Homo sapiens: one gene and its partners. The protein of the gene in region 1 interacts with the protein of each later gene in a pairwise test. Each region holds a gene or a part of one and is shown in the gene's direction. Other genes may lie near its edges.

The links.
Region 2: the proteins of MAGEB4 (region 1) and NEUROD4 interact in binary tests that used the Homo sapiens proteins (3 or more experiments, as listed by UniProt).
Region 3: the proteins of MAGEB4 (region 1) and ACOT11 interact in binary tests that used the Homo sapiens proteins (3 or more experiments, as listed by UniProt).
Region 4: the proteins of MAGEB4 (region 1) and H2AP interact in binary tests that used the Homo sapiens proteins (3 or more experiments, as listed by UniProt).

What each region holds. Positions count from the first base shown.
Region 1 is NC_000023.11:30,237,260-30,244,701, forward strand, and holds MAGEB4 (melanoma-associated antigen B4), read left to right. Parts: upstream 1-4,740; 5' UTR 4,741-4,876; coding exon 4,877-5,917; 3' UTR 5,918-6,928; downstream 6,929-7,442.
Region 2 is NC_000012.12:55,015,059-55,022,981, forward strand, and holds the start of NEUROD4 (neurogenic differentiation factor 4), read left to right. Parts: upstream 1-4,915; 5' UTR 4,916-5,255; intron 5,256-7,923. UniProt on the Homo sapiens protein: Probably acts as a transcriptional activator. Mediates neuronal differentiation. Required for the regulation of amacrine cell fate specification in the retina.
Region 3 is NC_000001.11:54,551,228-54,558,227, forward strand, and holds part of ACOT11 (acyl-coenzyme A thioesterase 11), read left to right. Parts: intron 1-7,000. UniProt on the Homo sapiens protein: Has an acyl-CoA thioesterase activity with a preference for the long chain fatty acyl-CoA thioesters hexadecanoyl-CoA/palmitoyl-CoA and tetradecanoyl-CoA/myristoyl-CoA which are the main substrates in the mitochondrial beta-oxidation pathway.
Region 4 is NC_000023.11:37,986,071-37,991,832, forward strand, and holds H2AP (huntingtin-interacting protein M), read left to right. Parts: upstream 1-4,708; 5' UTR 4,709-4,769; coding exon 4,770-5,123; 3' UTR 5,124-5,244; downstream 5,245-5,762.

The sequences.
Region 1 (7,442 bases):
TGCAAGATAACTTGGAATTAGAATAAGCATTTCCTTGAAAATGTTTAAAAAAAAAAAGTCAGCAGTAAAATGTATGGCATTAAGAAATAGAGAAAGAGTGTAAGATGGTCAATATTTGGTTTCCTAAATGCTTTTACTCTGTGCTTTAAGAAAATGAAAGATAAATAACCATATATGTCTGGCTTACTTAAGAATGTAGAATTAAATCATAATAAATTAGACCTCATGCTGACACACTCATTCTCCAAGTGTTAATTGAGCATCTGCTCTTGGAAGGATCCATGCTAATACTGGGAGGGCTAAGAAAAAGAAGACCTAGCAACTGACCTTAAAATTATAAGGTCGAGAAGCAGCTATCATCTAAGGAAAATGGTGATATACACTCTAAGACCAAAAGGATACATGATAAGAAGGGAGGGAGGTGGTTCCACATGAGAACAGTCAAGTATGAATTATCTAATCAAGGCGGTGTTGGGCCTAAGGAAAGTGCAGGTCCCTCAATGGGAGTTAATCTAAGTGAGGCTCCATGGTGGGCTGGATGAGGCTGTGGGAATGGCGAGCAGGGGCCAGGCTCTTAGAAGTTGCCTCTCACGCAGTGGCGGGCGCCTGTAGTCCCAGCTACTCGGGAGGCTGAGGCAGGAGAATGGCGTGAACCTGGGAGGCAGAGCTTGCAGTGAGCCGAGATTGTGCCACTGCAGTCCGGCCTGGGCTAAAGAGCGGGATTCCGTCTCAAAAGAAAAAAAAAAAGAAGTTGCCTCTCAGAGGTGCGAGACAAAGCTTGGAATAGGAAACAGTTCTTAACAGTTACTTTGGGATCATGGATAAATCAGGGAGAATCTGGGGTAGGAATGTGTCCTGTGCTCTTGTCCCAGTACAAATAAACACAGCACACACTAGGTGTTTTGTGCACATCATCTCCAGCCAGTTTCTGAGAAATAAGGGTAATACCCTCAAGGGACGGGGGAGGCCCAGAAGCCACTGTGCTGGTACTCTTTGCCCTGGGCTGGGGGATCCAGAGCCTGTTCCATTAAAAGCGCATTCAATTAGGTTACCTCATTTGTGATTTGGCAAACTCTAGGCAAGGTCTAGATTTTGAGAGGTGGTTAAATGAATCAAAATAAAAGTGGTTTAGATGGAAGGATAGCTGAGAGAGAGGGAAGTTTTTGGTCCTTGAAACTCATTTTAGAATCTGTGTTGCATCTACTGAGGAAGTCTACCTCATACTAATATTGAATGATCTATCAAGTAATGAGGAAATATTATTTAGTTTTCCTTTCTAGGTAGCACTTTGTCTGATAGGGCTTTCTTTGTCTTAGAATATGGTATAATCTCTGACATCTCCTGCATTGAAAAATAAGTCCCAGTGTAGTAGATTGCAACGTCAGGGTACAAATTAATCATAATAAGAACTGGCACTATTATATGTCTCAATACATCTCAAGCACTTTACATACATTGTATACATTTTACCAGTCCTACAAAACAGAGCTTATCAAACCCACTTCACAGATAAAAAGCCTGAAGCCCACAGTCTATTAATATGTCCAATTTCACATGGCTGGTAAGTGACAGGACTGGGACAAGACCCCCAGTCTGAATTAGTGTAAAGCACACTCTGTTCCATGCCTCCCAACCTGAGACTGACTGTGTCCCCTTATTCACTTTTCTTCTCACTACTCCCAAACGTATATCAAGTGATGAAAAGATTCTGTACCCAATCTGCTGGACTGAAATACAGAACCAGAGCAAGGAAATTACCAAAATGGTCAAGAGGTGTGAATTAAGGAGAGAAAGATAATATTTGGTGACAATAAGATTACACATGCAAAGTCAGATAAACTCAAAAGATCATGGGGTCACATTCTGTCATTCTGGACTGTCCCCCTTTTTATAGGAAGTTAAATCTTTTCCAAGAGAAATACATAAGAGGGTAGTAAAGAGAAGAAATAGATCAATGTTTTTTTTTTTTTTTTTTTTTTCTCTGACAGTATGACTTCTATCCTCGGGCTTCTGCCTTGTGTTACAGCTTCCCTATCTTATATCACTCCTGGGACAGGGATGCATTGTCTGCAAGATTTATTATAGGGAAACTGATCAAGAATTTTTAGGGATGCGGCATTTCCCAGGAAGTCATTAACTAAGGGACAAGAGCCAAGATAAAGACCTTCATATAGGAGGACTCAGCAGAACAACATGCCAGACAGAGTTCTTAGCCTGAGCATCTCCTCACTTATTCTTCAAGGTTCTCAGGGACTTGTGAGTTCCTGCATCTCGGGTCAGTAGAGGGAGGAGTGCCATTCTCTGACACATACCAAGTTGAGGACCCTGAATGAAGAATGAGGGAAGCACTCACCCAAATAGCCTTAACAGGATGTGGCTGAACCTGATTTCTACTCCGGAGGTCTTAAGAAGGTAAAGACCATGATCTGAGGCTGGCTGACTCAGGTCCATAGAGGAAGGATTCCTAATGTGTGCCAGGAGTAAAGTGAGTACCCTGAAGAGTGCAGGAACCACCAAACCCCTATCAGTGGGGATCCCACAGAATCCTCCCTATTGTCACCTCTGAGAGATTTAGGCATGAATGTCAGAAAGAGGCACCCTCATATCCTCAGTAGTAACAGAGAAGTGAAGGTCTTGTTCTGAGGTGGGCAATCCCAGCTCAGCAAAGGGAGGAATATTAAGCCTTCCTGTGAGTGAGATTTAGGATCCTGAGTTAGGACCTGAGTAGGACAATCCACCATAAGACCTCAACCTGTCTACCACAGCTGCCACTCTTGGGAGACCATGGTCAGCTGTGGCCAGATAAGGCCACCCTCTTCCTCCTATCTGATCTCAGGGAGGTGCAGGCCTTTTAAATGGAGAGGTCTTCAGGTCAAAAAAGAGGGGAGCCCTAGGATCTGCTAGGAGCCAAATCAAGGAAACCGAGTGAGAACTGAGGGGACTGCTCACCTCTGAATAGAGAGAGCAACAGAGTCCACCCCCCTGCATAACTCTTAAATTGCCAGGGCAACATGTAAGGCTGAGGACTCACCATCACTTTTTTTTTTTAATAATTGACCTTCTTTTTTAGAATAGTTTTACGTTCACAGCAAAACTGAGCAGAAAGGAGAGTCTCACAGGCATCCTGTCCTCCCACAGACACAGCCTCCTTCATATCAACCTCCCAAGCCAGGGTGATACATTTGTTACAATTGAGAATACATGGACACATCATTATCACCCAATGTCCGTAGTTTAGGATTCATTCCTGTTGCTGCACATTCTGTGGTTTTAATATTTAAAAATGTATAATGACATATGTTTACCACCATAGAATCATCCAGAATTGTTTTACTGCCTTAAAAGTTCTCTGTGCCTGATCTATTTATCTCTCACTCTCCCCAACCTTTGGAAACCACTGAACTTTGTACTGTTTCCATACTTTTGCCTTTTCCAGAATGTCATATAGATGGAATTATGCAATGTATAGACTTTTCAAATTGGCTTCTTTCACTTTGTAATATGTATCTAAGTTTCATCCATGTCTCTTTGTGGCTTGATAGTTCATTCCCTTTTAGTGCTGAATAATATTTTATTCTGTTAATTTATCCACTCTCCTTCTGAAGGACATATTGCTTGCTTCCCAGTTTGGGCAATTATGAATAAAGCTACTATAAACATTTGTGTGCAGGTTTTTTTTGTGGACATACCGTTTTCAACTCATCTGGCTAAATAACAAGGAGCGCACTTGCTAGATCATATGATGAAAGTATGCATAGCTTTGTAAGAAACTTACAAACTGTCTTCAAAAGTGGCTGTATCATTTTTCATGTCCATCAGCAATGACAGTGTGCTCCTGTTGCTCCACATCCTCATCAGTATTTGGGGTTATCAGGGTTTTTGATTTTGACCATTCTTATAGGTATGTAGTGGTATCACATTATTGTTTTAATTTGCAAGTCTCTAATGATATGTGATGTTGACCATCATTTCATGTACGTATTTGCCTTCCATATATATTATTTGTTGAGGTGCCTGTTTAGATCTTTTGTCCATTTTTAATAGGGTTGGTCAGTTCTTATTGTTCAGTTTTAAGACATTTTTGTATGTTTTGGTTAACAGTCCCTTATCAGATATGTCTTTTGAAAATAATTTTTTCCCAACCTGGGAGTTATCTTATTCTCTTTGTGGTATCTTTAGCAGAGCAGAAGTTTTAATTTAGCGAAGTCCAGATTATCAATTATTTTCTTTCATAGATGCCCATCACATTTTATACCAGAACTAGAAAAGATGAAATTCTTGGTCTGAAGTTGCAGTTATCAGTCAGCAGAAGAGACAGTCCACAACCCTGCTTGGAGTCCAGATGAGGATCCTGAGTGCAAACTTGGGACCTAAAGAGCCCAGGACAGAGAGAGCACTAAATGCTTCTAGGCAGGGGTGGTGGGTTGAGGGGCCCCTAGACTTCCCTCATCTGGGTCCCAGAAAACTAAAGAGTCAATTTCACAACACCAATAGAGGGAGGCTCAGGCCCTGCCAAGAGCTGACATGACAATTCTAAAGGTAATCAGAGTGGATCCTCTCCAAGCCAGAACACAGAAAGCCCCACTGCGAGCCTTGTTGTCACCCAGTCAGCCCCAGGCAGGGTTGGCAAGCTGCAGCCTAAGGCACATTGTAACTTCCTCAGCTGGCTTCTCAGGGGACAGAATGACTAAGAACAATAGCCCAGTGAATACTTAGAGCAGTGTTCTCAAGGAATCCTGCAGAGGCGGCTTCTGAAAAGCCAAGGTAGTATCTGCCTGCTGAAGGTGTTCTCAGGATTTCATTTGCTCTTCTCCAGGAACCACATCACCTGCCCTTCTGCCTACACTCCTGCCTGCTGTGCCTAACCACAGCCATCATGCCTCGGGGTCAGAAGAGTAAGCTCCGTGCCCGTGAGAAACGCCAGCGGACCCGTGGTCAGACCCAGGATCTCAAGGTTGGTCAGCCTACTGCAGCAGAGAAAGAAGAGTCTCCTTCCTCTTCCTCATCTGTTTTGAGGGATACTGCCTCCAGCTCCCTTGCTTTTGGCATTCCCCAGGAGCCTCAGAGAGAGCCACCCACCACCTCTGCTGCTGCAGCTATGTCATGCACTGGATCTGATAAAGGCGACGAGAGCCAAGATGAGGAAAATGCAAGTTCCTCCCAGGCCTCAACATCCACTGAGAGATCACTCAAAGATTCTCTAACCAGGAAGACGAAGATGTTAGTGCAGTTCCTGCTGTACAAGTATAAAATGAAAGAGCCCACTACAAAGGCAGAAATGCTGAAGATCATCAGCAAAAAGTACAAGGAGCACTTCCCTGAGATCTTCAGGAAAGTCTCTCAGCGCACGGAGCTGGTCTTTGGCCTTGCCTTGAAGGAGGTCAACCCCACCACTCACTCCTACATCCTCGTCAGCATGCTAGGCCCCAACGATGGAAACCAGAGCAGTGCCTGGACCCTTCCAAGGAATGGGCTTCTGATGCCTCTACTGAGTGTGATCTTCTTAAATGGCAACTGTGCCCGTGAAGAGGAAATCTGGGAATTCCTGAATATGCTGGGGATCTATGATGGAAAGAGGCACCTTATCTTTGGGGAACCCCGAAAGCTCATCACCCAAGATCTGGTACAGGAAAAATATCTGGAATACCAGCAGGTGCCCAACAGTGATCCCCCACGCTATCAATTCCTGTGGGGTCCAAGAGCTCATGCAGAAACCAGCAAGATGAAAGTCCTGGAGTTTTTGGCCAAGGTGAATGACACCACCCCCAATAACTTCCCACTGCTTTATGAAGAGGCTTTGAGAGATGAAGAAGAGAGAGCTGGAGCCCGGCCCAGAGTTGCAGCCAGGCGTGGCACTACAGCCATGACTAGTGCGTATTCCAGGGCCACATCCAGTAGCTCTTCCCAACCCATGTGAGATCTAAGGCAAATTGTTCACTTTGTGGTTGAAAGACCTGCTGCTTTCTCTGTTCCTGTGATGCATGAATAACTCATTGATTTATCTCTTTGTTGTATTTTCCATGATGTTTCTTAAAATAGAAAGTTTATTTAGATTCAGAATATAAATTTAGAAATGGCATGCATCACACATTTATTGCTGTTTATCAGGTTGGTTTAGTGATAATAATTTTGTTTTTGAAATACAAATAGAAAATCCTGAAATAATTTTTGTGATACAGAGCAAAATAACACGGCATGGGAGTAAGGTTATCCTTAGAAATTTAAAATAACTCCACAGTAAAATAGGTAGAATCTGAAGATAGAAAGGGAAGAAAAGTAAAAGTTGCTTTATTCGTGGTTTGTCTTACTCAGTTCAGTCTTTTTTTGCTCATAAATTTAAAAGTTACATACCTGGTTTGCTTAGATTATTCAAGAATGTGGAGGCCTGGGCCAAGGTCAATGACAGTGTCTCCATTGTCTTCCCTCCATTAAGAGAAGACTTTAAGAGATGAGGGAGAGAGAGCCAGAGACAGTGTTGCAACTGGGCCTGGCATGTTTCAGTGTGGTGTCCAGCAGTGTCTCCCACTCCTTGTGAAGTCTGAGGTATATTCTTTACTTTTGATTAAGAAAACACTTAACCTTCTAATTAATGGAGAGCCAAAGGGGAGTTGGTGGGAACACCATGTATAACATATTTGTATGTAAAATGATTTATCTTTTCTTTTTCCTGTTTTTCAGTGTTCTTTTTTTAAATTGTAGATTTATTTAGTTTCAGAATCTAAGTTTATGAATGGCATGAATCACTCATTTATTAAAATATATCAGGTTGGAGAGTGAGAATTTTTGCATTATGTAAAACAATTTAAAAATCTTTTAAGTCTTTTTCTGTGATCTAGAACAAGATAATATGGCATTGGAATATGGAATTTGTGAAAAGGAAATTACCTTGCAATAAAGTTGGTGGGACCAGGAAGTAGAGAAAAAAAAAGTAAAATGTGGTCAATTCTTGCTTTGTTTTATTCTTTTTAGTCTTTCTTTGTAAAACTGAAGTATATGTACCCGGATCTGCTTAGCTTTTTCAGGAATGTGGGGGAAATTAAATAGCAATACATTTGACTTCCTGGTCACTTACACTTCAATTGTCCAAATATTAATTGAGCAGCTGTACTTTGGAGGGCTCCTGGCTAGTACCGGATAAGCTAAGAAAACAAAAAACAAACAAACAACAAAAAAACCCCAATCCCTGCCCACAGAATTTTAGAATCCAACAGCAGCTATCATATAACGAAGGTAATGAGATACTCCTTAAGACCTAAAGACAGGTGAAAAGGGGATAAAAAAGAAGGTGGGGGTATTACCAGCAGTGGAATCTAGTGTAAATGTCCTAAGCAAGGTAACTGAGACTTCGGGAAACTGAACATACTGCAATAGGAGGTAATTTTATGTCCTGGCATAGTGCCTATATGGGGCGCACTGAGCAGGGGTCACACACTCAGATGGTG
Region 2 (7,923 bases), on another chromosome or scaffold:
GTAATCTTTTCATGAAAGAGTCATATCAGCTTATATATATATTCCAGTGATTGGTGATGTAGGGGGTGGCTATCAGATCCTTTCCTGAAAATAAATTTGGCTATGAGTGGGGAATAGGATTTTAAAGATAGCATATTTTAATTATGTTTTAAAATCAATTTCGCATTCACAAGTTACATATGAATAGATTATACTTGTGTAAAAAAAAAAACAATTTCCCTCAATAACTACCTGATCTCAATGTATTTCATGCCAGTTCTGAGATTTCCTGAGATAAAGACCCACTGTTCTCAGTTCGTGTGTGTGTATATGTGTATCTGTAAATTATATGTATTATTTGATGCATGTGTATACATTAAAAAAATAAGTATATCATATTGAACCTATAGTTCTATAATGGTTTTATATTTCCCCCTAAGCATGTTAGTATATGTGGTATATTTTTGTTAGTATAGATAAATGGCATATCTTACTTTGGCTAAACCACTGGTCACTTAATGTATTGATAATAAACTTTTTCATTATTAAAAACAATGCTGCAATTAATATCTCTGATACATAATAGCTCCCTGGGCACATTATGTTAGAAAGTCAGACACAGAGAAGAGGTTTTAGGTATATTTGTATATTTAGTTTACTGCCTCTTCCACTACACTGAAAGTTGGTTAGGAATGAGAAGTCTTACAGCGCTCTGTAGTCCCAGAATCTTGCACGGTGCCTGGGACTTTATATAGGCATAAAATGCATTTGTGGGGTAAATTAATAGTGTGGTCATTATTATAATAAAGGAATACTTGGATTGAGATAGGAGCACAAAAACAGGGCCTTTTTAAGGAGATCCTGATAATAGCTTTTCTTTGATTTCTAAGACATACAAATTTGATTTAAATGTTTAAGATAAAATACCAATAATAACTATCATTTATTGAGCACTTGCTAAGTGCCAGACTGTATACTAGGTACTTTGCATGTATTATTTCATACATATTTATCAGAGCAAGTTCATTGAATAAGCAGTATTACCTCCAGCTTACAGGTAGAAGAACTGAGGCCCAGTGAGATAAATAACTTGTCTGAAGTCACGTGGTTAATAAATGTCAATGTTATGATTCAAGGATTCCATTGAATCCTAGAGGACCTTGCTCTTAGGAATTAGATATGGCAAGTGCAGAAATGGACGCTGGAGGATGGTACAGAGCTTTTAAAGGTAGAGAAGTTTCCCCAGCAGATCTGAACAAATTCAGGCAGTTTTGTGTAGCTAAAAACTACATAATGAATGAGCCACTCTGTATACCCTGTGAATGCCCATATGTATAGCTCTTGAATGAATGTGGTGTGAGAAGGTTGAATCAAGTGTTCTTCTCAACAGGGACCAGTAATCTAGATGGAAAGAGGACACCCAAATTTATTACCTGGTTTCTAGACCCACTTTTGCCATTAACCTAATATATTGCTTTATTCAAACCTGGGGACTCTGTCTCCATACCTTTGAATGGGCCAGTATTATTCACCCTCAAAAAAGAATTGTGACACTTAACTATGTTATATCATTGAGTATCAGAGCTGGAAGGATTCTGAGAGATCATAACCCAAGCTGATCATTGCCTAATGAGGAATGTGAGGCCAGAGAGGTTAGATAACTCATCACAGCCACACAGAGGCAGACTAAGATTTAGAGCCCAGGATTCCTTAGTCCTAAGCTTTTCCCCGACCCCACTTCACTACGGAGTTTTTGAAAAGAATGAAGCACTTCACTTTGCTACTGTAAGGGAAGGTTATTGAATCTCCCTGATGCTATTCTCCAAACTATTCATAAACCCAACTGACACCTCTGTGTTTTTCTCTAGTCGTTATGCAGGAGAGGTTCATGTCACAAATCACTTTTTGTTTTAACCTGTTTCACAATTATTTTTGAACCTGTATTATTTCCCTACTGGAACGCTGAACTTCTCGAGGTCAAGGACTATGTTTTATTTACCTTCTCCCCCAGCCCTCACCCCATCCCAACCCCATCCCAGGCCCCAGTGCCTAAAACTTGGAGAGCAACTTTAGGTTCTGCTCAAGTCTAACCTGAAGATGGGCAGCCCGAATCATTTCTTCCTTGGAAGTCCACCTTCTTGCTCGCTACAGTTCCTGATATATGTCCCTGGACTCCATTTGTTGGTCGCATTTGATTTTAATTCAGCAGAAGCTAGTGATCTCCGATGGGAAGGTGAGAAGGAGAGACATCTGGGGACCATCAGCAACAGGATCCGTGGCTTGAGGCTTAGCACCCTGGGGCCTAATGTCAGACATTGGTTTCAGGTCTTCAGTGTCTGACTGAAGAAGGCAGTTTCTACCCCGCTTAGGGGCCCACAGGCAGGTCTCCTTTGGGGGTCAGGATTACTGGGAATACTAATTAATTCATTAGTGGGGTTGATGGATTATCAGGCTGTCTCCTGGCAAAGGGTCCTTGGGGGAGGGGGGGAACAGATTGCTGCTCATAAATCTGCCTGTTGCCTCCCCTCTCTCTGCTTCAATGGCTCCCGGGCGTTAGGCCTGTGGGCCAGCAACTGAGTACTGGTCTCCTTTTCCCCACTCAGCAGATGGTTCTTACAGGTTAGCTCAGAGCTTTATAAAAAGCAGCAGAGAAAGAAGGAAGGGCTGGGGATTGGCCCTCTGGCCCAGGAACCATGTGGGGGGAGGAGAATGCATGCAAATGCCTTGTATTCTCCTTTCCTAGGGCAGTCACCACCCCTTTTCCTTTGCTGACAGCACACACCCCTCCTGCCCCTTCCTGCCCTCTCAAAGTTGAACAGCCAACTGTACAACTGTCAATGAGTTGTGACGAGGGTGACCCTGATGAAATAGATTCAACCCATCCCTCTGCAAAAAGCAGCTCTTAAAGAAAATTTGGCATTCACAACTCCCTCCCCATTCTTCAGGGGTGTGCACGTTCATGTACGCTTGTGTATGTGTGTGTGTGCACTCACATACACACACACACACGAATGTATTTTGAAGGCTAATCCTATTGTGTCCAGTCCCTTACATCTGTCAGAGAAAGCAAGGAATCCTGCAGAATGTTTTATCCCCACCCTCATCTTTGTCTCAATATGTTCACCTTTCTGCTAATCTGCTATTACTCCCTGCCCCTGAAAATTTCACAGGCATCAGTGCCATCAACTTCTAAATATCCATGGACAGGGCTTTGAAGACACAAAGCAGGAGATCAATTCATTCAGTAAGCGCTCATTGAACAATGATTAAGCACCTCTATCCTAGACATAAATTACCTCATAGATAAATTTCCTGTGGCCGAGGAGTGAATTCTGATTTGTTTTTTAGAGATCTGCTATTCCCATCATGTGTTGTTTAATTATTCTGAAAATGAAGTTTATTTTCCTGAGCAGATATTTTTCTGGATAGGGATACAAATAAAGATAAGTAAGAGATTAAAGAGCTGCTGAAAATAAATAACTTCCCATGAAAACTGAAAAAAGTGTTAATTTTTATTTTCTTGTTTTCTGTGAAAAACAAGAGTCATATGACACATATCAGAATTAAAAATAACTATTTTCAAACTTAAGATACTCTTTTCAACTTTATGAGCAGTGAAACTATCTTTTGTTTCAGCCCTCTACAGTTTTCCTTGCACACAGGCATATTAATAGTTTTTCATTTCTGTTTGACGCATGTGCTAGTTATGTTGTTAGACCACGCGATTCTCAAAAAGCTGGGGATACTCTGGTTTCTTTTCAGATTGTATAAATGTTTTGCCTTTTGCCAAAACGCCTGAGGAATTATCCTTCAAGTCAATTTCTAAAAGAAGTTGAACTTGGATTCGTAACTCTATCAGGCTACTGATGGAAAAACTCATTTTACAGATATGAAAACTGATGCCCAGAGTGAAGTTGACTTATTCAAGATCATTCAGCCAATTGCTTAATCTGAGCACCTTTCTTTTTCCTTCTTGGAAACACAAGATGATTAGAAAATCTTTGGTATCTTAAGTTCACAATCATTTATTTTTCCTTGGTGTAGTTTTAAATAAGATAGTATGAATATCTATATACTTAAATTATTCCAGATGTAGTTTTCTTTCTGTCTTCTAGCAATTTAATTCAACCTCCTAATACCAAAGGAGTTTTAGGAATTATTATGAGCCTTCTCTTCTTCTAAGCTTATTACTACTCAGGTGGACTTTTTCTACGTGAATGCTTAATGATGTATTTTTGAAAAACAATAGTAGATCTCAGTTTGTAACTCAAGGAACTAACTGCCCTTAAAATGAAGGATTTTATTAATTTCCTTTTTGTTTTTATAAATTTAAAGTGATCAGAAAGTTGAAAGAATAGCACAACAAATATAGCTTCACCTAAATTCACAAATTAAAAGTTTTAATGAGAGTAGCTTTGACGTGCTGAAAAGGTGGGAGAGACATACTTCTTCCTTCTACTTTTAGAACGCTGAAGTTTATAAGCCAAAGACCCCAGTCCACATGTGTAAGGAAGCAGCCACTGATGCTGTGTCCTTGACACGCATCTTTCTCACCTTTTGATTCTTTTCAGACGTGGGTCAGCAGCGTCATCTGCCCTTTTTAGCTCTCTCTCCAAGTCTATCCCCAATTTTCTTTCTCCATTCTGTCCACACTACTCCGCTCCCATTTCTTATCTTTTTAATCACAAAGGTTTCCAGTCCTCTTTTTCTTTACTCCTTAACTTCAGCAACTCTCCTCCCCTGCTCCCCTTCCACCAACCCCCATCTCTATTTAAACAAACAAACGGGCGGCAAAACTGGACCTGGCCGGAGGAGCCTTTCAAGTGGGCGTGTCTTTCGGCTGGGGAAAAGGGAGGAGTTAGACTCTGGGCAACATCACTCCTCCCTGGTCAGCTGGGAGAGCAATCAAAACTGCAGCAAGTCAGAGGCTCCGGCCAGAGAGCAGGAGCTGCCCAGAGGCTTGTGGTCCTGAAAGCTCCTCTCCGGGGAGCTAACCAGGGAGAGGAGGTACTGAAGAGCGACTAAACTGGCTGCAGCGGAGAGATCAGCCCGAAGGCGTCCTTGAGGAGCATACGGAACTCCAAGGAAGGAGTAGAATAAGGAGCAGGCAGAGAAACCAGACCCGGTGGAATCTCTAAGAGGTAACAACCGGGTTTGACATGGATCGCTGAAAGCGTCTCTTCTACCATCTGGATGGTCAGGGAGACTTGGCTTCTCTGACTGTCCTCTAAGACGCAGATTCACAGAGTTCACTCCAGGAACGGCCAGTGACCGAGGTGAGCCAGTGGTTGGGGTGGTAAGGGGGCTAAAGTTTCTGTGGGAAGTTCCCACTCACCTAGAGGAGCAGTTGGGGTGAGGAAAGTCTCTTCTGGGTAAGGCAGGAGGAAGTGAGATTTAGGAAACTTGGAATGTAGAAGCTAGTGAGTTGGAACACTTAGGGACAAATATAAACATTTTAAATAATTTTATTAAATTTTATAGCACTTGCCACCCAAAGTGAAACACATAGACACTCACAATCATTTTAATAAAGTGAAGAATACAGATGATCTCCCCCAATTCCTGTCAAAGCCACTCTTTCATTTTGTTAGTGGTGAAAATGTCGAAAAGTTTAACTGCTTTTCCAAGGTGGCCCAGCAAGTAGGTTGGAAGAATTGACCCAATCCACCACTCTGCTCACAGCATTTTAGGGCTATGCAAGGACGGAGGGGGAGGCAGGGAAAGGAAAACAGAATGAGGAATCAGAGAAGATTGTGGAAAATCCTCGGGGTAGATTCTCACCATTAACTATTTTGTTTACTAAAAATGCTTGAATAGTTGGCACAGGGTGGGGGAAATTTCCTTTTCCTCAGCTCTTTCAGATGGGAAATTAGAAGAAAAAGATTGTCCAAGTATATTTTTCCTTTCTCTGCTTCACACTCATCATTTGCCCGCAAAAAAAGTATACTCAGAAAATACTAATTAAATGTAAAATACCCACCCCCATTTTTTTGACAGAGGAAGCAGAGGTGAAATGCTGAAGAACATGCAGGGAAAAATAAGGGACTGAATAACTTCTGTTAACTATTAAGATCTGAGGCAATGGCACCTGAAGTATTACATGGCTTTGCTGGACAAAATGTGTGTGTATGTGCATGCATGTACATACATGTGCACATATATTAATAAAGGGGAAAATAGTAGAGTAGAAAAGAAGAGCATAGAGCAAACTACTGGCTTTTTCCAAGCAGTACAACTTGTGAACATCCTGATTTGGATTCTGTCTTTTTAGTGCCAAGACTGTGCAACTCTGGGAAAAGAATTTAGTCTATTTAGTTCTTAGATTTCCTAGAAACTGGGCTGGACAGCCCCCTTTCTGTTGTATTTAGTCATCGGATCAGGAGGTAAAGAGATTATCACCAGCTTTTAAGAGGAAAGACACCATCTAACTACCACAAATCCACATGTGAGTTCCCCTTACCTATTAATTAGTTGAAATATCTCCACAATAAATAAAAAATTTGTAAAAGTGTAGAAAGAATTCCAGGATAGCTTCACATAGTAGTAATGCTTAACGACTTTGGCCCTAGTAGTAAAAATATTCAGTAGTAACAATCATTGCCTAAGCAAACACTTTGCTAGAACAGATTTAAAATTTTTAAAAATATGAGAAATATTTTGAATTAAAGAGAATTGGCCAAACTTGAAATTTCACTGAAAGACCCTATAGAACGAGGAAAATTCTGTTATATTGTGTAGGTATAAAAGAAAATCCAAATACCAAATGGCTAAAAATGGACTTTATAAGACCAGAATGTGTTTATGTGTATGTGTAGGGAAGGGCCAGATTCTGCCCCTTGAGCCAGTATTCATTGATTTTTGTCATGTTCGAGCCTATTTCCTATGTAATTTGTGAGCTAATTTCTTTCCTAGGAATTGAGGCAACCTTAAGATGGTATATCATGATGCTTTGTGAGATAGTGCTACAGACTTTCTCAAACAGCTTCTGTAAAACAATTGCCAACCCTCACATTGGCATAACAATTTTACAAAGTACTTGTGCTTGCATTATCTCCTTATTTTTCATGAAAACTTCTAAATGATGTAGCAAAGACAATCTTATTTTCATTTTGCCCTAAGGGTACAAAAATTACAATAATTACAATAATTTTTCTGTGCTCCTTTAATGAGTGAATGATGAAACAGTCTTGGTTCCATGCTTCTTTCAGTACACCTGTGAGATGGTTCCTTAACAGGCTGAAAGCAACATTAGATTTAGGCACCTGTTCTGGAGACAACCCTTGGTTTCTTTGATCACAACTTTTGTTGTGATCAGTATGTGTGATCACAGTACACATATTTTCAACACTCAAATTTAAAACTAGATGTTTCTATTTTTTTCCTGTTAACCTTTTTGATGCATTGAAAATATTTAGGTGAAAAAAGTCAGATAAACATTTTTCTTTATATTTCAGGAGTCTTGGCTTTCACTGCTTTCACTTCTCTCTGATAGACACTGCATATTATCCTCAGAGCTCTGCCATTTGGTTTTGGTGGGAAAAATTGTATTCGCAATACAGAAGGTTCATGAATCTGAAAATGTATGTGATTGAATAGGAGTGTCAAGCTAACTGTTTTCTCCCAATTATAAAACAGAGTGAAAGTTTGGGAGCTAACTTCCATCTTGAATATGATGGAAGAGTTCTAGTCAACTCAGTGGAGGCAGTTGATAGGGCTTGGTTTCCTTACCTCTTGCTACAGAACAGAAACTTTGATTTCAGTTTCAATAGGAGACTGGAGGAGTAGGTGTATTGGGGAATTTTTTCAAATAGATGTTGAAATGAAGCCATTGGCTTTTGTTGATGCAAAATCAATATTAATAACAGATTCTAATTATACCTATTCTTGTCCAAGTGGCCAGAAAAATTCATGGTGATGTTTAGGAGAACAATACCTAAAACTTAA
Region 3 (7,000 bases), on another chromosome or scaffold:
GGGTCTCAGATAATCCACAAGCCCCACTTTGCATGGTTGGGGGCCATTTTCAGTGTCCTGTGGCACTGTAGACAGAGTCAGCATTGGAGTTCAAGGGCTCTGGTCCCTACTCGCCCCTGGGTACCCAGCAAGTGAGTGGGCGACTGAATGAAGTGGTCAGCCTGCTGCCACGCTCGGGGCTGGGAGAACTGCTGAGTGCAGTGTGGTGGTGCGGGAAAGGTCTCCCTGTCCCGCTTCAATCCTTGCCTCTCCCCGTGGAGAGCTCTTCTTTCCCTTTCCAAGATGTCAGTCTACACTGGGCACTGAGTCTCACATTTCTGGGCTAGCAGGGACCCACTGGTGCCCTCGTAGGAGGTGGGCAAGGGTCCTGGGAAGCCTGGGAACCTCTGCCCAGCCTCAGGTCTAGCCTGGCCCAGGTCAGCTCTCAGTGGGGCTCAGAAGCTTTTTTTACTCCAGAAATGGTGATGGGGCTGGCTGTTTTTGTTTTGTTTTTGTTTTTGTTTTGTTTTGTTTTTGTTTTTGTTTTTGTTTTTGTTTTTGTTTTGAGATGGAGTCTCATTCTGTCACCCAGGAGTGCGGTGGTGTAATCTTGGCTCACTGCAGCCTCTGCCTCCTGGATTCAAGGAATTCTCCTGCCTCAGCCTCCGGAGTAGCTGGGATTACAGGTGCCCACCACCACACCCAGCTAATTTTTGTATTAGCCTCCAACCACACAATGCAATCCTACTGTTTTACCTTGAACCTGAGGACAGCTGGAGGGCTCCCCACAACCTCTCAGCTTCATAAGGGGTCTAACCCAGAGTGTGGGGAGGTTCAGGCACAACAGTTGGATGTTCACCCCACGGTTCACGGTGTGACCTTTGGCCAGGGGTTCCTCTCTCTAGGCCTTAGGGTGCTGGGTGATCCCTGAGGTCCCCACCAGCCTGGACATCCTGGGGCTCTGAATGTTTGTGAAGGGTTTGTCTGCCACCATGAAGTTGATCCTGACAGTGAGAGGCAGGGTCCCGTCTCTCTTGAGGACCCTACTCTGTGTTGGAGGTGGGGAGACCTTAGACATAAAATGATGGGCCTATCATATACGAGGAGTCCCAAAACTGCTGAATGAATGAGTGACCACAGGTGCTCAGAAGCAGGCTGAGGTGGTCCTAGAAGGCTTCCTGGAGGAAGAGGTGAGACTTGAACATGTAGCATCAGCCTGTTCAGGAGCCATATGTGAACCCCCAGCCTCAGCCATGGGCAGACACTCTTAGTGTTTTTTTTGTTTGTTTGTTTTTGAGGCAGAGTCTCACTCTGTCTCCCAGGCTGGAGTGCTGGAGTACAGTGGTGCCATCTCAGCTAACTGCAACCTCCACCTCTCTGGTTCAAGCGATTCTCATTTCTCGGCCTCCTGAGTAGCTGGGACTACAGGTGCGTGCCATCGGCTAATTTTTTCTATTTTTAGTAGAGACGGGGTTTCACCATGTTGGCCAGGCTGGTCTTGAACTCCTGACCTCAGGTGTTCTGCCTGCCTTGGCCTCCCAAAATGCTGGGATTACAGGCATGAGCCACCATGCCCGGCCCACTCTTAGTGTTGTTGTTGTTGTTGTTGTTTGTTTTTGTTTTGTTTTTTTTTTTTTTGAGACGGAGTTTCGCTCTTGTTGCCCAGGCTGGAGTGCAGTGGTGCTATTTTGGCTCACCGCAACCTCTGCCTCCCAGGTTCAAGCGATTCTCCTGCCTCAGCCTCCCAAGTAGCTGGGATTACAGGCATGTGCCACCATGCCTGGCTAATTTTGCATTTTTAGTAGAGATGGGGTTTCTCCATGTTGGTCAGGCTGGTCTCGAACTTCCGACCTCAGGTGAGCCACCCGCCTAGGCCTCCCAAAGTGCTGGGATTACAGGCGTGAACCACCATGCCCGGCCAGTGTTCTTAATTTATCTGGAGGACTCTTTTTTTGCTCTCCAAAATTTTATTTTAATATGCATAGCATAAGGGAATGATTACCTCATTAAAAAATTTTTTTTTAATGGGCCAGGCATGGTGGCTCATACCTATAATCCCAACACTTTGGGAGGCCGAGGTCGGTGGATTACTTGAGGTCAGGAGTTTGAGACCAGCCTGACCAACATGGAGAAACTGTGTCTCTATTAAAAATACAAAAATAAGCTGGATGTGCCCAGTTGAACCTGGGAGGTGGAGGTTGCAGTGAGCCGAGATCGCGCCACTGCACTCCAGCCTGGGTGACCGAACAAGACTCTGTCTCAAAAAAACATTAAAAAAAAAAAATGGACAGGTAATATTCTATGTTTTTATCATGTACAAATGATGTTTTGAAGTACGTATACATTATGTTATGACTAAATCTAATTAACAGATACATTACCTCACATAGTTTTCATTTTTTTGGTGATAGTGCAGAACATCTACTCTGCATTTTTCAAGAATACAATATATTGTCATTAACCATATCACCTTACTGTATAATAGATCTCTTGAAATTTATTCCTCCTAAGTGTAATTATGCATCCTCTGACTAAGATCTCTCCATCCCCCCAACAACCCCTGCCTCTGATAAGCAGCATTATACTCTATTTCCATGAAATCAACTTTTTAAGATTGATGTCTGAGTGAGGTCATGTAGTATTTGTCTTTCTGTGCCTGGCCCTTATTTCACTTAATATAACATACTCTGGGGGAGGTGGCTCGTGCCCATAATCCCAGTACTTCGGGAGGCTGAGATGGGCGGATCGCTTGAGCTCAGGACTTCGAGGCCAGCCTGGGCAACATGGCAAAACCCGATCTCTACAAAAACCACAAAAATTGCCAGGTGTGGTAGCACGCGCCTCTAGTCCCAGCTAGTTGGGAGGCTGAGGTGGGAGGATGGCTTGAGCCTGGGAGGTGAAGGTTGCTGTGAGCTGAAGTTATTGCATTTCAGCCTGGGCAACAGAGCCAGACCCTGTCACACACAAAAACAAAAACAAAAGAAAACAAAAAAAAAAACTCCACCATAACATACTCCAGGTTCATCCATGTAGTTGCAAATGGCAGGATTTTATTTTATTTTTATGGCTGAATAGTATTCCATAGTGTGTGTGTGTGTGTGTGTGTGTGTGTGTGTGTGTGTGTGTGTATATATATATATATATATTTTTTTTTTTTTTTTTTGAGATGGAGTCCTGCTTTGTCACCCAGGCTGGAATACAGTGGTGCAATTATGGCTTACTGCAGCCTCGAGCTCCTGGGCTCAAGCAAGCCTCCTGCCTCAGCCACCTGAGTAGCTGGGAATTAGAGGTATGCACCACTGTGCCCAGCTAATTTTTTTTTTAAGTTTTTGTAGAGATGGGTTCTCTCTATGTTGACCAGGCTGGTCTTGAACTCCTGGCCTCAAACTATCCTCTCCCCTTGGCTGTTGGGATTGCAGGTTTGAGCCACCACACCCAGCTTTATACCACATTAAAAAAATCCATTCATCCACTGGTGGACACTTAGTTGGTTCCATGTCTTGGCTATTGTGAAGAGTGCTGCAATAAACACGGGAGTAGAGGTATCTCTTCAATATACTGATTTCATTTCCTTTGGCTATATACCCAGTAGTGGGACTGCTGGATCATATGGTAATTCTATTTTTAATTTTTTGAGGAACCTCCATACTGTTTTCCATAATGGCTGTACCAATTTACATTCCCATGAACAGTGTCAAAAGGTTGCCTTTTCCCCAAATCCTTGCCAACACATATTGTCTTCTGGTTTTGTTTGTTTGTTTGTTTGTTTTGAGACGGAGTCTCACTCTGTCGCCCAGGCTGGAGTGTAGTGGCACGACCTTGGCTCACTGCAACCTCCGCCTCCCGGGTTCAAGTGATTCTCCTGCCTCAGCCTCCCAAATAGCTGGGATTACAGACATTGCGACACCATGCCTGGCTAATTTTTTGTATTTTCAGTAAAGATGGGGTTTCACCATGTTGGTCAGCCTGGTCTCGAACTCATAACCTCATGATCCACCTGCCTTGGCCTCCCAAAGTGCTGGGATTACAGGCGTGAGCCACCACGTCTGGCTCTGGTTTTTTGATAGTAGCTATTCTGACAGGTATGAGATGCTATTTCATTGTGGTTTTGATTTGCATTTCCATGATGATTAGTGATGTTGAGCATTTTTTTCATATACCTGGTGGACATTTGTATAGCTTCCTTTGAGAAATGCCTATTCAGGTCTTTTGCCCATTTTAATTTTTTTTTCTATTGAGTTGTTTTACTTCTTTGTATATTTTGGATGTTAACCCCTTGTCAGATATATAGTTTGTAAATATTTTCTCCCATTCTGTAGGTTGTCTCTTAACTCTGTTGATTGGTTCCTTTGCTGTGCAGAAGTGTTTTGGTATAAAGAAATCACATCTATTTTTGCTTTTGTTGCCTGTGCTTTTGAGACCCTATCCAAAAAATTCTTACCTAGCACAACGTCATGAAGTGTTTCCCTTATGTTTTCTTCTAGTAATTTTGTAGTTTGGGGGTCGTACATTTAAGTCTTTAACTCATTTTTATTTTTTATTTTTTATTTTTTTTTGAGATGGAGTCTCACTCTGTCGCCTAGGTTGGAGTGCAGTGGCATGATCTCGGCTCACTGCAACCTCCGCCTCCCAGGTTCAAGTGATTCTCCTGCTGCCTCAGCCTCCCAAGTAGCTGGGATGACAGGCACATGCCACCACGCCTAACTAACTTTTGTATTTTTAGTTGAGATGGGATTTCACCATGTTGGCCAGCTTAGTCTCGAACTCCTGACCTCAGGTGATCCACCCGCCTCAGTCTCCCAAAGTGCTGAGATTACAGGTGTGAGCCACTGCACCTGGCCTGATTTTTTTATACAGTGAGAGATAAGGGATTGATTTCATTTTTCTACATGTGGGTTTCCAGTTTTCCCAACATCAATTGTTGAATAGACTGTCCCTTCCCCAATGTGTGTTCTGGCACCTTTGTTGAAAATCAGTTGGCTGTAAATGTGTAGATTTATTTTGGAGCTCTCTATTCTGTTCCATTGGTCTATATGTCTGTCTGTTTTTATACCACTACCATACTGTTTTGGTTAATGTAGCTTTGTAGTATATTTCGAAATCAGGTAGTACAGTATGATGCCTTTGGCTCTGTTCTTTTTGCTCAAGATTGCTTTGGCTATTTGGGGTCTTTTGTGGTTCCATATGAATTTTAGGCTTGTTTTTTCTGTTTCTGTGAAGAATGTCATTGGCACTTTGATAGGGATTGCATTGAATCTGTAGATCACTTTGAGTAGTATGGACATTGTCACCATAATTCTTCTGATCCATGAACATGGGATCTTTTCATTTATATCTTCTTCAATTTCTTTCATTAATGATTTATAGTTTTCATTGTAGAGTTTTTTTTTTTTGAGACAGAGTCTCACTGTGTAGCCCAGGCTGGAGTGCAGTGGCATGATCTTGGCTCACTGCAACCTCTGCCTCCTGGGTTCAAGTGATTCTTCTCCCTCAGTCCCCCGAGTAGCTGGGATTACAGGTGTGTGCCACCATGCCTGGCTAATTTTTGTATTTTTAGTAGAGACAGGGCTTCACCATTGTTGGCAAGGCTCGTCTCGAACTCCTGACCTTGGGTGATCCGCCCACCTTGGCCTCCCAAAATGCTGGGATTACAGACGTGAGCCATCGCATCTGGTCTTCACTGTAGAGATCTTTCATCTCCTTTATTTATTTTTTAAGAGACAGTGTTTCCCTCTGTTGCCCAGGTTGGAGCGCAGTGGTCTGATCATAGCTCACTGTGGCTATGAATTCCTGGGCTCAAATGATACTCCTGCCTCAGCCTCCCAAGTAGCTGAGACTACAGGCATGTGCCACCACACCTGGCAGATTTTTTATTTAAAAAAATTAAAAAAAATTTTTATACTTAGGCCAGGCATGGTGGCTCACGCTTGTAATCCCAGCACTTTGGGAGGCCAAGGCAGGCAGATCACAAGGTCAGGAGTTCGAGACCAGCCTGGTCAACATGGTGAAATCCCATCTCTACTAAAAATACAAAAATTAGTCAGGTATGGTGGTGCGCACCTGTAATCCCAGCTACTGAGGAGGCTGAGGCAGGAGAATTGCTTGAACCCGGGAGGCGGAGGTTGCAGTGAGCCGAGATCATGCCACTGCACTCCAGCCTGAGTGACAGAGAAAGATTCCATCTCAAAAAAAAAAAAAAAAAAGAAAAAAATTAAATTATTTATCTACCCTTGTGTGCACTGAAAAAAACATTTTAAGAGATAGAGTCTTGCTATGTTGCCCAGGCTGGTTTCAAACTATTGGGCTCAAGCAATCCTCCCACCTCAGCCTCCTGAGTAGCTGGAATTACAGGCATGAGCCACCACTCCTGGTTTTTACCTCCTTGGTTAAATTTATTCTCAGGTATTTTATTTTATTTTATTTTTCGTAGCTATTGTCAATGGGATTGTTTTCCAGATTTCTTTTTTAGATAGTTTGCTATTAGTATATAGAAAGACTACTGACTTTTGTATGTTGATTTTGTATCCTGCAACTTTACTGAATTTATTATTCCTACCAGTTTTTTAGTGGAGGCTTTAGGGTTTTCTATATATAGGATTATGACATCTGCAAACAGGGACAATTTAACTTCCTTCTTTCCAATTTGGATGCCTTTTATTTCTCTCTCTTGCCTAATTGCTCTGGCTAGGACTTCCGGTATTACGTTGGATATAAGTGGTAAAAGTGGGCATCTTTGTTTTATCCCACATTTTAGATGAAAAGCTTTCAACTTTTCCCTGTTCAGTGGAGGACTCTTTTTCATCTTTCAAAACCCAGCTGGGCTATCATTTCCCCTTTGAATCCTCATCTTGTCTGTCCCTAGAGTTAATGACGTCTCCTCAGGATGTTGTATATACTTCACTCGTTCCCTCCACGGGTACTTACTGTACTGGGGGATTAACAGTTAGCCAGTGCTGGGTATGCTGTGGCCAATGATATATATAGCCTGTTTCCTGGAGCTGACAGCTAGTGCAGGAGAGAT
Region 4 (5,762 bases), 7.7 Mb from region 1:
GGAAAAAAATCTTCATGACCTCTTTTTGGGCAATCGATTCTTATATGTGAAAAAACACAGGCATCAAATGAAAAGAATAGATAAATCGCACTTTATTTTTATCAAAATAAAAACTTTTGTGTTTCAAAGGACACTATTTTTTTTTTTTAAAGAAGGAAGGGCTTTATTCAGCCAGGAGCTTCGGCAAGACTCACGTCTCCAACAACTGAGCTCCCCGAGTGAGAAATTCCTGTCCCTTTTAAGGGCTCATGACTCTAAGGGGGTCCACATGAGAGGGTCGTGATTGACTGACCAAGCACGGGGTATGTGACTTGGGGCTGCATGTACCGGTAATTAGAACAGAACAGAACAGGACAGGGATTTTCACAGTGCTTTTCTATGCAATGTCTGTAATCTTTAGATAACATAACCGATTAGGTCAGGGGTCGATCTTTAACTACCAGGCCCAGGGTGTGGCACCGGGCTGTCTGCTTGTGGATTTCATTTCTGCCTTTTAGTTTTTACTTCTTCTTTCTTTGGAGGCAGAAATTGGGCATAAGACAATATGAGGGGTGGTCTCCTCCCTTATTCCCCCGCTTTGAGAACCTCATTCAATAGTGGAAGTTCTCACTTTTATTCTCACTACCCATGTCTTCTTGCAAGACAGATCAATAGTGATTCATATAGTACACTTGTGCTGAAGCATTTTGGTGAACTAAGGTAGTGATGAAGCTTTTTATCATTTGAAGAAGTACAGGTAGCAAACAAGGGAGCAGTAAGCAGGTTTCTATTACTATTATAACTCATAAGAGTTTTAAATCTTTTTTTATTATTATACTTTAAGTTCTAGGGTACATGTGCACAACATGCAGGTTTGTTACATATGTATACATGCGCCATGTTGGTGTGCTGCACCCATTAACTCATCATTTACACTCTCATTTTTTGCACTCAGGTTCAGCATACTTACTAGCTTTCATTTAAAACATGCCAAATACTTTACTAGTCTGGGGATTTGTCCATGGAATGTTATTTATCTTACCACTTCTCTGACTCATTCCTTATTCTTGTGACAGTTCTAAGGTTCAGTGTCATTTCAACATTCCTCCATAACCCTATGTAAATTACATCCTTAAAATAACATTTAAAATAACATTTTAAATGTGAATAAGTGATTATCAATTGAGAATAATTTTGTCCTCTGGCTACTTTTTGACATCACAACTGGAAGATGCTACTATCTAGTGGATAGGGGCCAAGGTACTGCTGTCCTTTTTTACCAGGAACAGCCTTTATGCCACAAAACAAAGAATTATTCAGTCCAAAATGTCAATAGTGCTAAAGTTTATAAACTCTGCTTTTGATCATGCACAATAAATTTGAAATACATATTTGTTTGGGTGTTTGTTTTAACATCTGTCTTTCCTACTAGACTGGATGTTTCATAAGGATGAGATAGATAATGCCTAGTTTGCTTAACATTGAATATCCAGCATCAACCTCAGTGTCTGATGCCAGGTAGCTACATGAAAGGATGAAACAGCAGGCATGAGGTAAGAAGAAAAGGAAAGGCTTTATTAGGAGGGTATACAAACATTTCTGGGTATAGAAGATGCTGTCAGTGCCCTGTCCATACTCCAACAGCTCATACCATTTAAGTAGATATTTGCCTGACTTTCAAATGTCAGAACCCTTATTTCTTTGTGTGAGACCTTTCATTAGGTCATCAGAGCCCACTGTGCTCAATAATATGACAGTCCAGAACAGTGGGACATCATCTGCCCCTGGAAGATGTGTTTACTACAGCGTTCTCTAAAGTTTTACAGTGACATTAGCTGCTTGATAACGAATACTTTGTTTGCTTCCTTTCCTTCTCTGTCTCAATTCCTCTCTTCCCTGCCAGAGTTTCCTGGGAATAACTCCTGTGATAGGCCGAGTAATGGTCCCCAAAGATACTTAGATCCTAACCCCTTGCACTTATGAATGTTGCCTTATATGGAAAAAGAGAATTCACAAAGATGATTGTGGAAGATGGGAGATTATTCTGTATTATCTGATAGAACCTAAGGTCAATCACACAAGTTCATAAAAGAGTGAGGCAGAGGCGAATTTGACACAGAAGAAGGAAATGTGACTACTGAAGAAAAATGCTATGCTGCTGGCTGTAAATAGGAAGGAAGGGGCCCATGAGATAAGGAATGCAGCTCTAGGAGCTGGGAAAGTCAAGGAAACAGACCCTCCTCTAGAGTCCCCAGAGGGAGTATGGCAATGTTGACACCTTATTTTCAGCCTAGTGAAACTGATTTTGAACTTCTGACCTCCAGGTTTGTAAGATACTAAATGCGTGTATTTTAAAGCTACCAAATTTATGGCAATTCATTAGAGCAGCCATAGGGATCTATCACAATGTTTGGTCCCTGGAAGTGGGTTGCTGCTATAAGAAATATCTAAAAATGTGGAAGTGGCTTTGCAACTGGATAATAGCTATAGACTGGAATAATTTTCAGGAGCATTATATAACAACCTTAGATTATGTTGAACAGATCATTAATAGAAATATGAATGTTCAAAGTGTTCCTGGTGAGAGCTCAGACATGAGGAACACAGTAGAGAAAGTCTATATTGTCTTAGAGAACACCTAAATTATCATAAACAAACTATTGATAGAAATAAAATGTCAAAGGTGTTGCTGGTGAATGCTTAGAAAGAAATTAGTAACATAATATCAGAAAAGGGAGTTTGTGTTATATAGCATCAGAAATCCTACCTGAATTGTGCTCTACAATTATGTGGAAAGCAGGACTTGTAAGCAATGAACTTGAATATTTAGCTGAGCAGATTTTCATGCAAAGGATTAAAGGAATGGCCTGTTTTTTATTGCTGTTTATAGTAAAATGCCAGAGGAAAGACATAAATTGAGGGAAGAACTGTTAAGCAAAAAGAAACCAGAATTCAATGATATGAGAAATTTTCAGCCTATCCAGATTGCAAAAGACACCAAAATTAGGAAATTCATTGCCACAAAATCATCCTCCAGAGATAAAATCAAGGGCGTGGCTAGACATCCTTTTGTTAGTGCCTTTAAGGGATCAAAAGATCAAAGTATTCAATCACATAGATGGTGTTTTGAAGAGATATGGGGTGTGCTTCTCAGAATAAGCAAGGAATAGAGATGGGATTTTCTATGAGGGATCTTGAAGAAGCCTCTTGTCTAATGGCATGAATCCCCATGACATACATAAAAGGCCTGTAAGTTTTTGACAATGTTATATCAGCAGAAACAATGCCAGCTTAGACTGAAAGGGACAAATAGAGGAAGAAATGAAAGAAGTCTACAGGACTCTCAAAATTTGACAGGAGGAAGCAGGCTGATAAAACTACTCAGCTGTAAACATATGCTACCATTCAAAATAAAGGAACAATGACTGAGGGCAGAACCTAGAGGCCAGAGGGCAGATTTATGACCCCAGGTGAAGTCATAGGATCAGAGTCATCAAAGGGAGGAGTCTCAAGCCTTAGAATATTCTCAGGCCTTGAAACCTAATGGTTGGATTTTGAAAATGCTTGGATTTGAGACTCCTTTTTCTTTCCACTTTTTCCCTTGTGGAATGGCAAAGTTATTGGCTGTAAATGAACCAAAGTCAAAGGGAAAACACAGAATTAGTAGAGAAGAAAATTAAATAATAGAAAAGAAACATCTCTTAGTGCTTTGGCTTCACCTAGGAGGGACAAGAAATACACATCTGGGCTTAAACTGAGCACAAGATGCACTTCTCTATCAACTGTTTACCTGGCACTGACAGGTAAACTTATTGAACATCTTATTATTATTATTATTTTTGAGACCGAGTCCCGCTCTGTCTCCCAGGCTGGAGTGTGGTGGCACGATCTCGGCTCACTGCAAACTCCACTTCCCGGGTTCACACCATTCTCTGGCCTCAGCCTCCCAAGTAGCTGGGACTACAGGCGCCCGCCACCACGCCCGGCTAATTATTTTTATTTTTATTTTTATTTTTAGTAGAGACGGGGTTTAACTGTGGTCTCGATCTCCTGACCTTGTGATCCACCCACCTCTGCCTCCCACAGTGCTGGGATTACAGGAGTGAGCCACTGCGCCCGGCTGAGCATCTTATTATTAATTGAAAAATGACTAAAATATATTTTTCAAATGGGGTAAAATCATGACACTCATACAGATATGAAATGAACACATGCTAAAAGAAAAAGATGTTATGACTGCTTCAAAAGGGAAACCAAAGAGTTGATATGGGAATATTCATCAGTAATATTAAATGATTGTGTAAATGGAGGCAAAACTGGTTTCATAAGGTGAAGAACAACCGAACCTCTACTAAAGAATATGCTGTACATGTATCAGCAGCCTACAACTAACAAAAGGCTATAAAAGACTTCACAGATAATGTAAGGCTGGAATCAGATAACCTGCAGTGGTGTCCTAAAGACAGAGCAAAGTTTTCCACTGAAGCACACATTTATTTTTATAATGTCAAAATCAGGTAGAGAGTTATAGTTCCCTCAAAATCAAGGTTCAGTCATTAGCGTGACTAGATCAGTGTCATAGACATTTCTAGGCTGAGGTCTGATAAGGGACCAGTGGACACCAATGAAATCACAAAGTCTAGGGATGTCACAAAGGCAGCTAGCTCCCTGACCAATAAGGGCCTGGAGCAGAGGGATACAATAGGCAGGACTAAGCACTAGTGTCCTCAGAGACCTACTTGAGCTAGAGAATCAAGCAGAGCTGATGAGAGCCAAACCCAGCAAACATCATGTCAGAGAAAAAGAACTGTAAGAACTCGTCTACAAATAACAACCAGACTCAAGACCCTTCTAGAAATGAGCTACAGGTCCCTAGGAGCTTCGTGGACCGCGTTGTGCAAGATGAACGAGACGTCCAAAGCCAGAGTTCCTCCACAATAAATACCCTCCTTACCTTGCTCGATTGCCTTGCTGACTACATCATGGAGCGGGTAGGCTTGGAGGCCAGCAACAATGGCAGTATGCGCAACACTTCACAAGATAGGGAGAGAGAAGTGGACAACAACCGTGAGCCCCACAGCGCTGAGAGTGATGTGACTCGCTTTTTGTTTGATGAGATGCCCAAATCCAGGAAGAATGACTGAAGACTGGGTCCCAGAGCCTTGAAGGGAACCTCACAGGCTTAGCCAGGGCAAAAATGTGTCACAGCTGAGGAATATCTGCTGTTGTCATCAACAAGTGCTATTAAAGGATGTAAATCCATGAGTATGTTTCTGACTCCTCTCAGTTTCTGTCGCTTTGGGTTGTAGGTGTCTGTAAGACATCCAGGGGAAGCTATCCCCAGAGAGCTGAAGGCGGGGAAGGGGTGGCCAGTGTGGTGTTTGAATCAGTGATTTAGAGGGGGCAGTTTCCAATGGTGACAGTGAGGGCGCCGGCCCTGTGGGGAGGAACTGGCTGGGATAAAGACACCGAGACTTCCTCATTGTCTCTGAACAGGAAGGCCTTGTGAGGCCAGGGAGTTGGCTGGGGGCCTCTGAGGCTTGTTGAATTCCCAGCCTGATGCTGGGGCCTGAGGTGGAGCTGCAGACTCTGACTGAGGTGCAGGAGGCTTTATTCAGGATAGCAAAGGTCTGAAGTCAGAGGGCGGTGGCCACAGGGGTGGGTGGAGAGGGGCACACTGGCTGGCATGAAGTTCATGGGACAGGGGCTTTACATGGAGATTGAAGAGTGAAGGAGAAACCATCATGAAAAATGCAAAAAAGAAATGATGGCCTGCTGGATTT